2 linked regions of the Homo sapiens genome follow. The protein of the gene in region 2 purifies or fractionates together with the protein of the main gene of each other region. This does not show direct contact. Each region holds a gene or a part of one and is shown on either strand. Other genes may lie near its edges. The genes, in order: SCAF11 and U2AF1.

What was found.
Region 1: the proteins of U2AF1 (region 2) and SCAF11 purify together in Homo sapiens (affinity purification with mass spectrometry, with the first as the bait; 2 studies listed by BioGRID). This does not show direct contact.

What each region holds. Positions count from the first base shown.
Region 1 is NC_000012.12:45,931,376-45,938,666, forward strand, and holds part of SCAF11 (protein SCAF11), read right to left. Parts: intron 3,131-7,291; coding exon 3,072-3,130; intron 2,911-3,071; coding exon 2,801-2,910; intron 1,858-2,800; coding exon 1,756-1,857; intron 238-1,755; coding exon 131-237; intron 1-130. UniProt on the Homo sapiens protein: Plays a role in pre-mRNA alternative splicing by regulating spliceosome assembly.
Region 2 is NC_000021.9:43,092,187-43,097,592, forward strand, and holds the end of U2AF1 (splicing factor U2AF 35 kDa subunit), read right to left. Parts: intron 3,558-5,406; coding exon 3,508-3,557; intron 3,351-3,507; coding exon 3,252-3,350; intron 2,603-3,251; coding exon 2,469-2,602; intron 2,378-2,468; coding exon 2,285-2,377; intron 1,064-2,284; coding exon 916-1,063; 3' UTR 770-915; downstream 1-769. UniProt on the Homo sapiens protein: Plays a critical role in both constitutive and enhancer-dependent splicing by mediating protein-protein interactions and protein-RNA interactions required for accurate 3'-splice site selection. Recruits U2 snRNP to the branch point.

The sequences.
Region 1 (7,291 bases), on a different chromosome or scaffold from region 2:
ATAGACGTATTTACAAGTTACTATGCCTTACTTTACAGCTTTTCTAAGTCATCAAACACACATTTTTATGAAACTGGAAGAAACTAATAATAATAATTTTTAAAATAGAAAATGATTTCACAAACTTTACCAAAATGTTCGAAAGATATGGTACTTGTTGGAAAAATAGTTCTTGGCAACACAGAAGAAATGAGAGGAAGGACTTCTGTTTCAACATTCCAGGGTATAAAACCAATTCTGAAAACATAATAAAGACATTTTTGTTTAAATGGTTTAAAAAATTAAACCACCAATTTAAAAGTATTAATTCTCTAAATCAGGTTAGCAATATTAAAATACAGTGCTTAAATGTTTTTTGCCCAAATAGCTAAAAATGTAAATTCAAGGTTACTCCTTGTCTAAAGATAGCTACCAATTGGCTAAAATTCAGAAAAAAACCTTTAAAAGTATGTTTTTCTGATAAATTCATGGCAAAGAAAAGATGAAAGCAACTTAACACAGATGTTTCTCTTTGAAATAATTTATGTAGTATTTTGTCAAGAATTTTTCCAGCTTTCATCATGTTCTTCACTACTCTAAAAAAATAAAATCAACTTTGAGGTGTAATTCAACATAAAATGCAGACTTTAAGCGTACATTTGCTAACTTTTTACCAAAGTGTGTGCATATATATATATATATGTCTGTGTTAACCACCACCCCAATCAAGAAAGAGAACATTTCTGCCCCCCTAGAAAGTGTCCTCACACTCCTTTGTATCCTTCTCCCTCCTTTCCAGGCAACCAAGGAACTGATTTATACCACTATGTTATATTCTAAAATTCCTCGACCTGGTGATGGCTCTTCAAAGTTCTCAGTGTCCCTAGAGACCTGTTAAGACCCCCTCCTTCAAATTTTCTCCATTCAAACCCAAACCACTTCTTGGCTTTCTTTTTCTTATTCATTTAGGTCTCCTAACAAAAGACTATCTGATTCAATATAAGGTAAGATTCTGGAGTAGGAGAAGCATGGGAAAAAAAATGTAACTTGTACATGTATAAAAATATGTAACTATAAGGAAGGGTTTCATAGTACATACATCTGGAATTCTTCATCTGACTTCTATTATGTTCTGCCATCATTCTTAGAGGGTGAATGCCCTATACAGAACTATATTATAGTGACATATAAAATAAAGTCATAATATGTTATAGGAATTAATATAAAACTCAGGCAGCGACCCTAATCTTTACTTAGGAGCTTGATTTAAGTATATATTATTTATCTAGCACCATCTTAGTAGCTTCAAGAATAAACTAAGAAATAAAAAACTAGATTACAGAAAGTCATGAGTGTCAGGGTAGAGTAGGCACTTGATCAAATAGTTATTTAGAAAAACATTTTTGAGGAGAGGAATATGGTAAAAGCGTGATTCAGCGGACAGCACGCAGGTAAGACTGGAATGGGAGAAGAGTAGAGGAATGATGACAGATGTATTACTAACAATAAATCTTAATATTCGGGTTCTCTCCCTTTTAAATAAATCTAGCATATACACAGCTATACTTGTTAAACAGATAAATTAAGGATTCTTTACTTTCTAAGGGGTCCTTTATATAGCAATCTTTATTGGGCATTTGAAACACCAAAGTTTAATTTGCACAAAACTTCCTTAGGAAAATAACAATTGAATAAGGTACCCTTGTACTTAAGTACTAATGCTATCTTGTTCATGTTAGCATGTAAACACCTGAGTAAATAATTTTTTATTTTTACCTTCCAATTCCAGGTAATGTATCAGGAAACCATGACAATTCCAGTTCATGTCTCTTCTGCCTAATCAATGCACTGATTTCACTGGCTTCTATAAATTCTGTACTAAAAGATAAATTTTAGACCTTCATCAGAATCTCACAATTTTAGGTTCAAAAAAACAATTAGGTTGTACAAAGAATAGCAGTCGTTTTTGTACCTGGCATTATGAATCACACTTACAAGCATGTGAGCTCTTTTCTATTTAAACACTTTCAAAATAAACTCATTCCTAAAATAAGTACAATTTTTATATTGCAAATCAGAGTTGTATTTATATGATTGTTAAAAATAACCCTTGAATTTCTATCTTAAGTGACAGAATTTTTTAAATAAAGTCAAGTCAGAGTAATATCCTCATTATTGAAAGGAAGAAATTCTAGGTGCAATAGTTTCCTACTTGAAACTAAGCCTAAGACAAAAGAAGAAAATAAAGTAGGGTAAGATGACTGCAACCAAAAATGGGTATAGTTCAGCTTTTCAAAAGCCTACTTAGACATAATTTTTTTCTTGGTACCTTGCCAAGTTCTAAAATTAAATCACACAATCGTATTCTGTGCTGCTGGCTCAACTAACTGTACGTGATTTTAAAACCTCAATTTAATCTTCAAATTCCATAAATATCAACTTAGTATCTACATGCCAGTCACTAGGATTCAAAGATGAATGGATCAGCTGTAAAAGGGTTCTTCTTTAGGTAACATCCCCACAAGCTAATAAATAAGCTACTTCTCAATCATATAAACAGCTTATATAGAACAACTTATTAATGAAAACAAAGCACACTGGCATAGGCAATCACTGCACAATAGAGAAGCTCCCAAAATTAACAGGTTTTCTCTTTGCTAGAGCTAGTTTACCTTCCCCCCCGCCCAAAAAAAAACTAAAGCAAAACAACCAGGTGGGCCTTTCAGTTTTTATTGGGCCCAGAGTTTAAATTTCTAGCAAAAGTTAATAATTATTAAACATCAAGTATAAACAGCATAAATTAAAAGTAGAAAATACTAACCAATAAGCTCTATAGGTAAAGGAAGATTCTCCAGAGTGGCTAACAGAAGAAAACATATTGGAGAAAAAATTTCTGAAGCACTGATTTGTACTCCAATTTGATCTCTGAGGCTAGAAAAGTAAAAAGTAGTTAGTGAAACAGCAAATAAATAACAGGTAAATAATAGTTATACTTAAATATTTTGATACACCTGAAGCACTGGTTATTTATGGACTAAATAACCCTAAAGTGTTATCATCTAAGAAAAAGATTTTTCTTGGTTTCAACAAACCTTATTTATCTTTATTGCTGCATTTTTCTTTCCTCCTGTTTCACTGTATAAAGAGTTTCCTGTACAAAGACATAAAAGGACTTGGTTACCTTGTATTAATTTTTATTAAAAAGGCTGTAAACCAGCATCGATACCAGCACATTGGCAAGGGTTGAAATACGTAGAAAAGCTGTATTTCAAATAATACACAATTTTTTACACAATTTTCCCAAATGCTGATTTCATCTTACCTTGTTAAGCTATTACTACAAGTAAAATATAAAAGGCCACAATACAGAAACTGGGTGAAGTATGTCAAACCTGCTATGTTTACAACATATGAGTTAAAATTCTAATCAACATTTTCTGCTACCTTATGCAAACTTAAAGTATCTTGTAACAAAAGGTATACACAAGAAGTCAAGCTATTTAATATCAATAATACACTTAACATTTCTTTTCCAGCTATCATCTAGAAAACAGGTAGCTATCTCAAGCAGGGGCTGACTAGGTGGCCTGGGGCCATCAGCTCTTGTTAACCATAAATTACCATTTAGCCACTGGCACCCACTTCAGGTATGTTCTTTCCTTCCAATTTTATACTAAGATGGAAAAGTAGATGTGCTGACTGAAACAGCTTTCTGTTACAACGTTGGTGGCTGCATTGCTTATGACTTGTCCACAGTGCATATGACAACTGCCTTTTAATTTTCCCCCTTGCTTGCCTCACAAAGGGCCTATTGACATTGTTCAAAATAAATCACACTAACTAGGAGGCTTGTTTCCTGCACTGCAAGATCATATGTATTTTGGTTTACTTCTGTTAGTTCAGTTGGTAATAGCCTACTTTCTACTTAATAGCATACTAATTTCCTTTTTAGTTATTATACAACAGCTGTTTGGTTTTGCACAAGTCCCTCTCAGAACTACTGTAACAAATGTAATTTCAATGTTAGTGGAAGACGAACAGGCTGAGTTCCGGAACTTACTGCCTTACCCCTTTGAAAATCTGTATCTAAAAGATGATACGCTGATTTTTTAAAATGGCTTAAGAGGCAAGAAGTAAAAATGTGTGGTAGGTACACAGATAACACTCTTAGAAATAACCATGTTCCTTCAGCTAGACATAGAATTGCTGTGCTATACCTACATAGTGTCTTTTATGCCCTAAGGATGCTGAGTTGTTTTGTTTCAGGTTGCATTCACTCAACACTTAACGAGTATGTAGTGTTTACATAGCATTCTTTCATTTGGAAACCTATCTCAGAAAGCCATCATTAGATAAAATGCTCTCTACTGAAAGAACTGTTAGTTTTCTCTGAGCAATGCTACATGTGAAAATCCAGTTCAAAAGCTGTTTCACATATTTCTGGGTAATTCTCAGGTAATTACTCAACAGCTTCAATGGCAATCTCTAAAGTATTCGATACTGGTGAATTTGTCTAAATTGTGGTTTCCTGAAGATCGTTTCACAAATCCACCCTACTTGTCTGTTTTTGGTGGGCAGTGATACGCCTTTTCATTTAATTTTTATCAAAGTAATGCATGTACATACTTTAAGATGTCAAACAGTACTTCCAAACTTATAAAGAAAAATTATGGAAATACCCACTCTTGATTTCTGCTTCCCCAAAGCACTCATCAAATCCTTTGGCTGTTTCTTCTAACATTTACTTATTACTAAATAACACCCTTATACTACTCTATGTGTGGTTTTTTTTGTTTTTTTTTTTTGAAACAGAATCTCGCTTTGTTGGCCAGGCTGGAGTGCAGTGCCACAATCTCGGCTGACTGCAACCTCTGCCTCCCAGGTTCAAGCAATTCTCCTGTCTCGGCCTCCTGAGCAGCTGGGACTACAGGCGCACACCACCACGCCCGGCTAATTTTGGTATTTTTAGTAGAGATGGGGTTTCACCATATTGGTGAGGCTGGTCTTGAACTCCTGACCTCAGGTGATCCACCCACTTCGGCCTCCCAAAGTGCTGGGATCACAGGCATGAGCCACCACGCCCAGCCAGCTTCATTCAGGTATTTTCCTAGGGTTAATAATGTCTTTGTTTTCTCTTTTCCTTTTCTTCCTTATTATCCATCATTAATTTAGCTAACTACAACAAAAGTATAAATCTGAGTTTAATACACTCAAACACAACAACTCATCCATAAGGTTTGTTCCCCACTCTCCTGGCAAAACTCTTTCTTTGTCCTGGTCCAATATGAACTGGTAACTCTCAAAGCTGCTGTTCAATAGTCATTTTGGGATTGTCCTTTGTCATTATCCCAATAATCCTCTTTGTCCTGTTTAATCTTTTCCTGAGTTGGAACTCATTTTCTGAATCTCACATTGTTCTTCCATTTACTATCTCATTTAGTGAAGTATATACATACATCCTCCAGCAGAAGTGGAAAAGGGTGGGAATTCTGAGTTAGTGCACGATGGATAGTTTGATAGGTTATAGAATTGTCTAGGTTAGTAATTATTTTCCCTAGAGTTTTCAAGGCATTGCTTCACTACTCCAACTATTGTTGATGACACTCTGTAACCCCAATCCTCTATGTGGTCTGTTTTTACTCTCTCTCTTGTCATCCTCAGACTTCTAGAACTTTATGAAGTATTTGGTATGATTTTTTTTTCATTTACTAAGTATTATATTATTTCTTCATATCTGGACACCTGTGCTCTACTATTACGGAAAAAATTTCCTTTGTATTACTTTTTTAAAAATAAATTTTTGCATTTTTCCTTCCTGAAATTTTATTATTCGATATTGAATCTCTTAAATGAATATCCTATCATCTCTTTTTTAGTCCTACTTTGAGACTTAAGAACTTATCTTCTACTCCTGTTGAATTTTTGTATTTTTGCTGTAATATTTTTAACTTCTGAAAGCTTTTTCTTAAATATTATTTTTCTTGTATCATTGATAAAATATCCCTTCTTTCAGGCTTTGAGGATATTAAGTTTTTTAAAGTTATTCCCTATTTTTCAGCATTGGGTCTGTCCCATCAGGTTGCTTTTGTCTTTGTTTTGATCTCTATTATGTTGATTTTCCTCAAACATCTGGAGATCCTTGATTGTTTGCTGGACACTAAAATATTGATTGAAAATGGTGTAGATGGGTGGTCAGAGCCTTTCAGCTAATGTGTTTCACTGTAGGGTGATCAAGCAGACATCTGGTTACTTCATTGGGAGACTCTCAAATGACATTATCTTTAAGTCTTTTCTTTTGGGCAAGTCAGTTTTCCAAAAGATGTCCCTTATTTCCTACTTTGGAAAATTATAATAATCAAGACTGCCAGTGCTTTGAAAAATGCTCTTAGGTAGAGGACTAGAAGCCTCATCATTTGACTTAATTTCCCTCTCTGTTGTTTCCTGTACCATCATTTATGCTAAAGTTTAAATCTGGTTCAAATACTCATTTTAGAGTGTAAATCTCCAGTCTTTCATTGGGTACTCCCCTTCCTCTACCCACAGCCAGGAATCTTCAGGATCTAAAGATTTTTAACCAATTCTGTTTTCCAAAACCACCCCATATCTCTGCCTTCACAGATAATGGAGGCCTCCAAACTCAACTTGCTAAGGTTTGATGGTATGTGTACTGTCTTGAGATTCTTAACTCCATTCTTCCCATGAAATGTCTATGTATCAGCTTTCTGCTAAGACAATTTACCATCCCCCTCATACTGTTTTACTTTCTATTTTGTGGACACTTATGTGCTGTCCCCCTCTCTCCAGCTTTCTTGTCTTTGTGGCTTAAACTTTGTGGCTTAAAACTCTTCTTTCTGGCCAGGCACAGTGGCTCACAACTGTAATCCCAGCACTCTGGGAGGCCGAGGTTGGCGGATCACCTGAGGTCAGGAGTTCGAGACCAGCCTGGCCAACATGGTGAAACCCTGCTCTACTAAAAATACCAAAATTAGCCGGGCATGATGGCGGGCACCTGTAATCCCAGCTACTCAGGAGGCTAAGGCAGTAGAATCACTTGAACCTGGGAGGCGGAGGTTGCAGTAAGCTGAGATTGTGTCACTGTACTCCAGCCTGGGTGACAAGAGCGAGACTGCATCTCAAAAAAACAAACAAACAAACAAACAAAAAACACACTTTTCTTTCATTCCTTTATTGTCATTTTAGTAGAGATTTGGGATGAGAGGGATCACAGCATTAAACAAGTACTCAATCTGCTATGCTTAACTAGAACCTTGTTTTATTTATGTTAATTCAGCATATCCCTAAACATGTTTCA
Region 2 (5,406 bases):
AGCCCCCACAAGGAGCAGAGCAGGGCAGGAGAGCCTGGGTGACTCCCACCTAGAGCCAGGAGGTTTTTGAGGATGAGGTATGTGGACACGTGGGCATGGTTTGGGATGGCCTCACTTGGAACGTTTTGGTCTTAGGAATGAAATGCTCAGCCCCCAGCACTGACTTGTGGCAGGTGCCCCAGACCGGTCAGCTGGCTGTCACCATAGTCACACCACCAGCACGCGCCACCCGAGTAGCTTGGGGAAAGTAATACCAGAGTGTCTAAAGGCGGATCTGCACCGCAGGCTTCTGTGTCTCCCACAGCCATTGGCATAAGGAAACACGGACACGGACTACTGGCCCTCAGTGTGCCGTGTGAGCATCCACGCTCCCTCCCACGAACACATGGGGTTCTTGACACAAACTCGCAGGAACGAGAAGGTAACATGGGTCGGGCCCACCCACTGTGTCTCACCACAGATCAGCCTTCTTCCCAACATCAGTGCAGTCTACAGCGTGTCTACTGATTATAGCTAAGCACTTCTTCACTAACCAGTTAGAAAAGAAACCCCAAAAGGCTTTCCATGACAGCCTCGAGAAATTCCGGATTATTTAGCATGTAGATCTCACCTGGTATGTGTTTTATTTCATGCCCTAAGATAAAAAATATTATTTCATTTATACTCAAAGTGGTGGATGGATATTAATCTTTACCTCCAAGATGACTAGCAGATTTATAAAGAAAAAGAAATTTAAAGAACTTCCACAAGAAATAAGTTACACCAAGAATACTGTTATCACTACAAATTTTATTCAGAAACCCATCTTTGTATGTTTTTTTTTTTGTTGTTTTTTAAAAAAAATTCCCCTTATGAACTGGTTTGGTCAATCAACTACAACACTTTCTAGCAGACATAAGGTAAAAATGGCATGGCTCAGAATCGCCCAGATCTTTCACGATCTCTCGACCGCCTCCTGTCACGCTCCCGTCCGCCGCCACCTCCACCACCGCCACCGCCACCGCCACGACCACGGTCTCTAGACCGAGAACGACGCTCCCGGGATCGGGATCTTGATCTATGCCTGCAACCAAGGAAAATAAAGAAAACCGTGCCATCCAAACCACGGCACGCAGCACAGAACCACACCCACTCTCTCAACACGCGCAGCTCCTCAAGCCAACGGCACTGATAAGGAAAAACACTGCTGAAGAGACTGCACGCCGTGACTGAGACACACCCTGATTTCAGGTGTGAAAAGTTTCAGGAGAAAAAAATGTGCAACTTAGAAGTGAACAGGTGTAATACCTTGCATCTTCTGTCTTCTTCTAGAACCAACTCAAATGGTCACAGGAAATCATAATCAAAATGAGCTGGACACATACCATCTTCAACCCTCACTGACCCCACGCTTCAGGCGCTCATAGCTACTGTGTCCATCAGGTTTTTGGGCTGGGGAGAGCAGGCCTGTTTTTCTCTTATGCTTCTTGAATGCTGACAATAAAACAATCGCCACCCATCTATTTACTAGTCCATGTTTAACAGAAGAGGGATGAGAACCTCTCCAGACTCAGAACTCAATCGGTTCGATTCTGACGTCTTGATTTTCTCTGCTCTGTGACCTGTCGTACATTTAAATGTAGGATCAGAGAGATGTGACCGCTGGGCCTGATTCTGCCAGTGTCCCGAAGGGAGGATGCCAGCGATCCCAAGACATAATGAAATGCCCTAAAACCAACAAGCAAAACCAAAAGAAACCCCAGTGGACATGTGAAATATGTAAAGCAAAAGCTTGTCCAACCTGCAGCCCAACACAAATTCATCAACTTGCTTAAAACATTATGAGATTTTTTTTGCAATTAAAAAAAAAGTTATCAGCTATCATTAGTGTATTTTATTTGTGACCCAAGACAATTCTTCTTCCAATGTGTCCCAGGGAAGCCATCCCTGATCTAAAGGAGGTTACAACATCTATTCTTCTTCTTCGTAATATCTGGGAGAATAAACTGCATGCCCACTTTCACCACGAGCCTCATGTCCGCGGCTGCCCAGCTAACCGCCCTCTTGCTTGATTACTAAGATCTGATCTCTACTTGAGAAGTTGGATAATGAAGTTACCTGTGTGCAGGTGAATATTCTTCTCCAAAGAGGACATTTGGATATTTAAAAATATGTACTATGTTCTAAGCACTGCCTTTTAAAAAACAGAAACGACACCTATGCCAAAATTTTTTTTTTGGAAGGGGGAGGGTTGTGAGGGGAGAAAGAAGCCACTGAGCTTAACAACGGGCACAGGAATACTCACTTCTTGCGACGGCGGCCATACAGCTCCCGCCGCAGCTCTCTGGAAATGGGCTTCAAATGCATGAAGTTGCAGAAGCCGCCTCGTGTGCATTCTCTGTGGGTGGGTTGGAAGGAGACATTTACTACCTCGTGTGCACACGGCCCCGAACTGTGCTCAGTCACGTCACTGGCCACTCCTCACTCACCCCATCTCATACTGACGGCAGCAGGCTTCTCTGAAGTCCGTCACGGGTGACAGCTCGGCGTGGATCGGCTGTCCATTAAACCAACGGTTATTCAAGTCAATCACAGCCTTTTCCGCATCTTCCTCACGGCGAAACTGAAAAGACAAAAACAGAAGTGCTTGCCATCCACGCTTTAATAAGACTTTCTCAATTACCAATCCAAGTATATCAGAGAGAGATATACACACTCAGGTATAGTAAGGTGGAATAGTATTACAGGATAATTGAAAAATCCTTTATTTTCAATGAGATTAACTTCAAGATAGTCCAAGATTTTGCCAAATGTTGCCTTCATTTTTCAAATTCAACTGGTTAAAGGAGCAAATATGGCTGTGTAGGCAAATAAAGTTTTATTCACTAAAAAAGAAAAAAGAAACCAAACATGTGAGTAAACCTAACTTTTCCTTAGTCCACACAGCTTCTAAACCAACAGGTACTAAATATTCTACACTGAAATAACGATGGCTGTGGTGTACGGTCCGTCCTTCAGTTCTGCTGGCTGGGCGCACGTGTGGGCTGGCCACCGCCACATATGACGCAGCTGGTAGGCGCCGAGCCAGTGCACCTGAGCCCTGCTGTGCGCCTGAGCATCCAGGATCTCAAGGTGCATGGCGACAGGCACCCCATCCTCTGTCGGCCTTGGCCCCGGCACACTAAGCGGCTGCACCACTGTCTCGCTTTCGCCTGTTGGCCTTGGCCCTGGCACACTAAGCGGCCACGCCGCCGTCTCGCCCTGGCTCCTACCTTGACGTACACGTTCCCCACCAGGTGGTCTCCCAGGTTGTCACAGACGTTCATCTCCTCTACTTCCCCATACTTCTCCTCCATTTCTGTAAAAACCTCCTGAAGGGAGACCACAGTGGTTTAAGACTCGTTATACATTACAAAGTGTCATTAGATATAACTCATGTATGTTTATTAGCAGAGAAACATTTTAAATCCTTCCAAACAGATACAGAAGATCAACAGGTCTATCAGTCACAGAGTTCAGTTCTCTCACCTCAAAAAACTCATCATAGTGTTCCTGCATCTCCACATCGCTCACGGCACCTGCAAACAACAGAAATCTTGCTGGTTAGAACATGTTAACCGAGTGAACTCTTGTGTTTAAACTCAAACTGCTACAGTAACACACACGAGATTATCTAGAGAAAAGCCTGGCAGAGCTGCACTCTGCAGGAGCACTCAGGAGACTGAGCCACATGGCTACTTGTGAATGGTGTCAAGTGTGGTGAGATTTTAAATGTCCCCATGACAGTCTCGATTCTGGCTACTAAGGTGTTAAAATCACAACCAGCTTTAATCAGCATCAAAAGGGCCACATTTTCAGAAACTGTGAGGAAAAAGTTGACTCTCAAACTACAAATTTTTTTTTTACACCCACAAGATGCAGTCTGGCTCTGTCGCCCAGGCTGGAGTGCAGTGGCACCATCTCAGCTCACTGCAACCTCCACCTCTGGGGTTCAAGCGATTCTCCTGTCTCAGCCTCTGGAGTTGCTGGGACTACAGGCGACTGCCACCACGCCCGGCTAATTTTTTTTTTTTTTTTTAATTTTTAGTACAGACAGGGTTTCACCACGTTGGCAGGCTGGTCTTGAACTCCTGACCTCAAGTGATCCGCCTGCCTTGGCCTCCCAAAGTGCTGTGATTACAGGCGTGAGACACCGCACCTGGGCTCAAACTAAGAAATATTAAAATTTTCTTCCTTTTAAGATTTAGAGTAAAGGCCAAATAAGCACACTGATGTCTTCCCCTCTTCTATAAGTTTAAAATGAAACCTGAAAGCAGGGTCGATGATTAAAAGCTGATGTTCCTAACTAGTCTTTTATGGACTGCCAGCCATGGTATGCTCTCAAATTCTTCTGATGTGATTAAAATCCAAGCAACCATGAAGATTCAGTAGGACAGTTCACGCAACCTTACGGTATTGTGGACGCCCTCAAGTAAAGGGAATGTTACAATGTTTTGCTGATGAAAGCATTCTTTTTTTTTTCTTTTTTTTGAGACGGAGTCTCACTCTGTCGCCCAGGCTGGAGTGCGGTGGCGCAATCTCGGCTCACTGCAACCTCCGCTTCCTGGGCTCATGCGATTCTCTGCCTCAGCCTCCTGAGTAGCTGGGATTACAGGCGCCCACAACCACGCCCGGCTAATTTTTGTATTTTTAATAGAGATGGGGTTTCACCATCTTGGCCAGGCTAGTCTTGAACTCCTGACCTCGTGATCCACCTGCCTCGGCCTCCCAAAGTGCTGGGATTACAGGTGTGAGCCGCCGTGCCCGGCGCAAGTATTCTTAAGTTTTATATTCCCAAACTATTTTCATCAGTTTATTCTTCATAATTCACATGTATTAGGTAAAATCATGTCTGTTGCGTGGGTAAATTTGGCAAATTTACACTCTATCCCCATCATCATTCTATCAAATTTAATTAATTTTTTTTTCTTTTGAGATGGAGTCTCTGTCCACTCCAGGCTGGAGTGCAGTGGCGTGATCTTGGCTCACTGCAACCTCCACTTCCTAGGTTCAAGCAATTCTCCTTCCTCAGCCTCCCAAGTAGGTGGGACTACAGGCGCGCACCACCATGCCTGGCTAATTTTTGTATTTTTAGTAGAGACGGGGTTTCACCATGTTGGCCAGGCTGGTCTCAACCTCCTGACCTCACGTGATCTGCTTACCTCAGCCTCCCAAAGTGCTGAGATTACAGGCATGAGCCACTGCCCCCGGCCCACTCTATCAAATTCTAGAGTTCTCTAAACCTGAGAAATCACAGAGCTGGTGTATCAACAAACATGTTCCAATCAGCTAGATTAGGGGCTGGCAAAAGCCTGACTGGTTTCCAGATTGGGCCGGCTGCCTTAGCCTGTGCACCCAACGTGGGCATCTGACTGCTGGCACACGGGT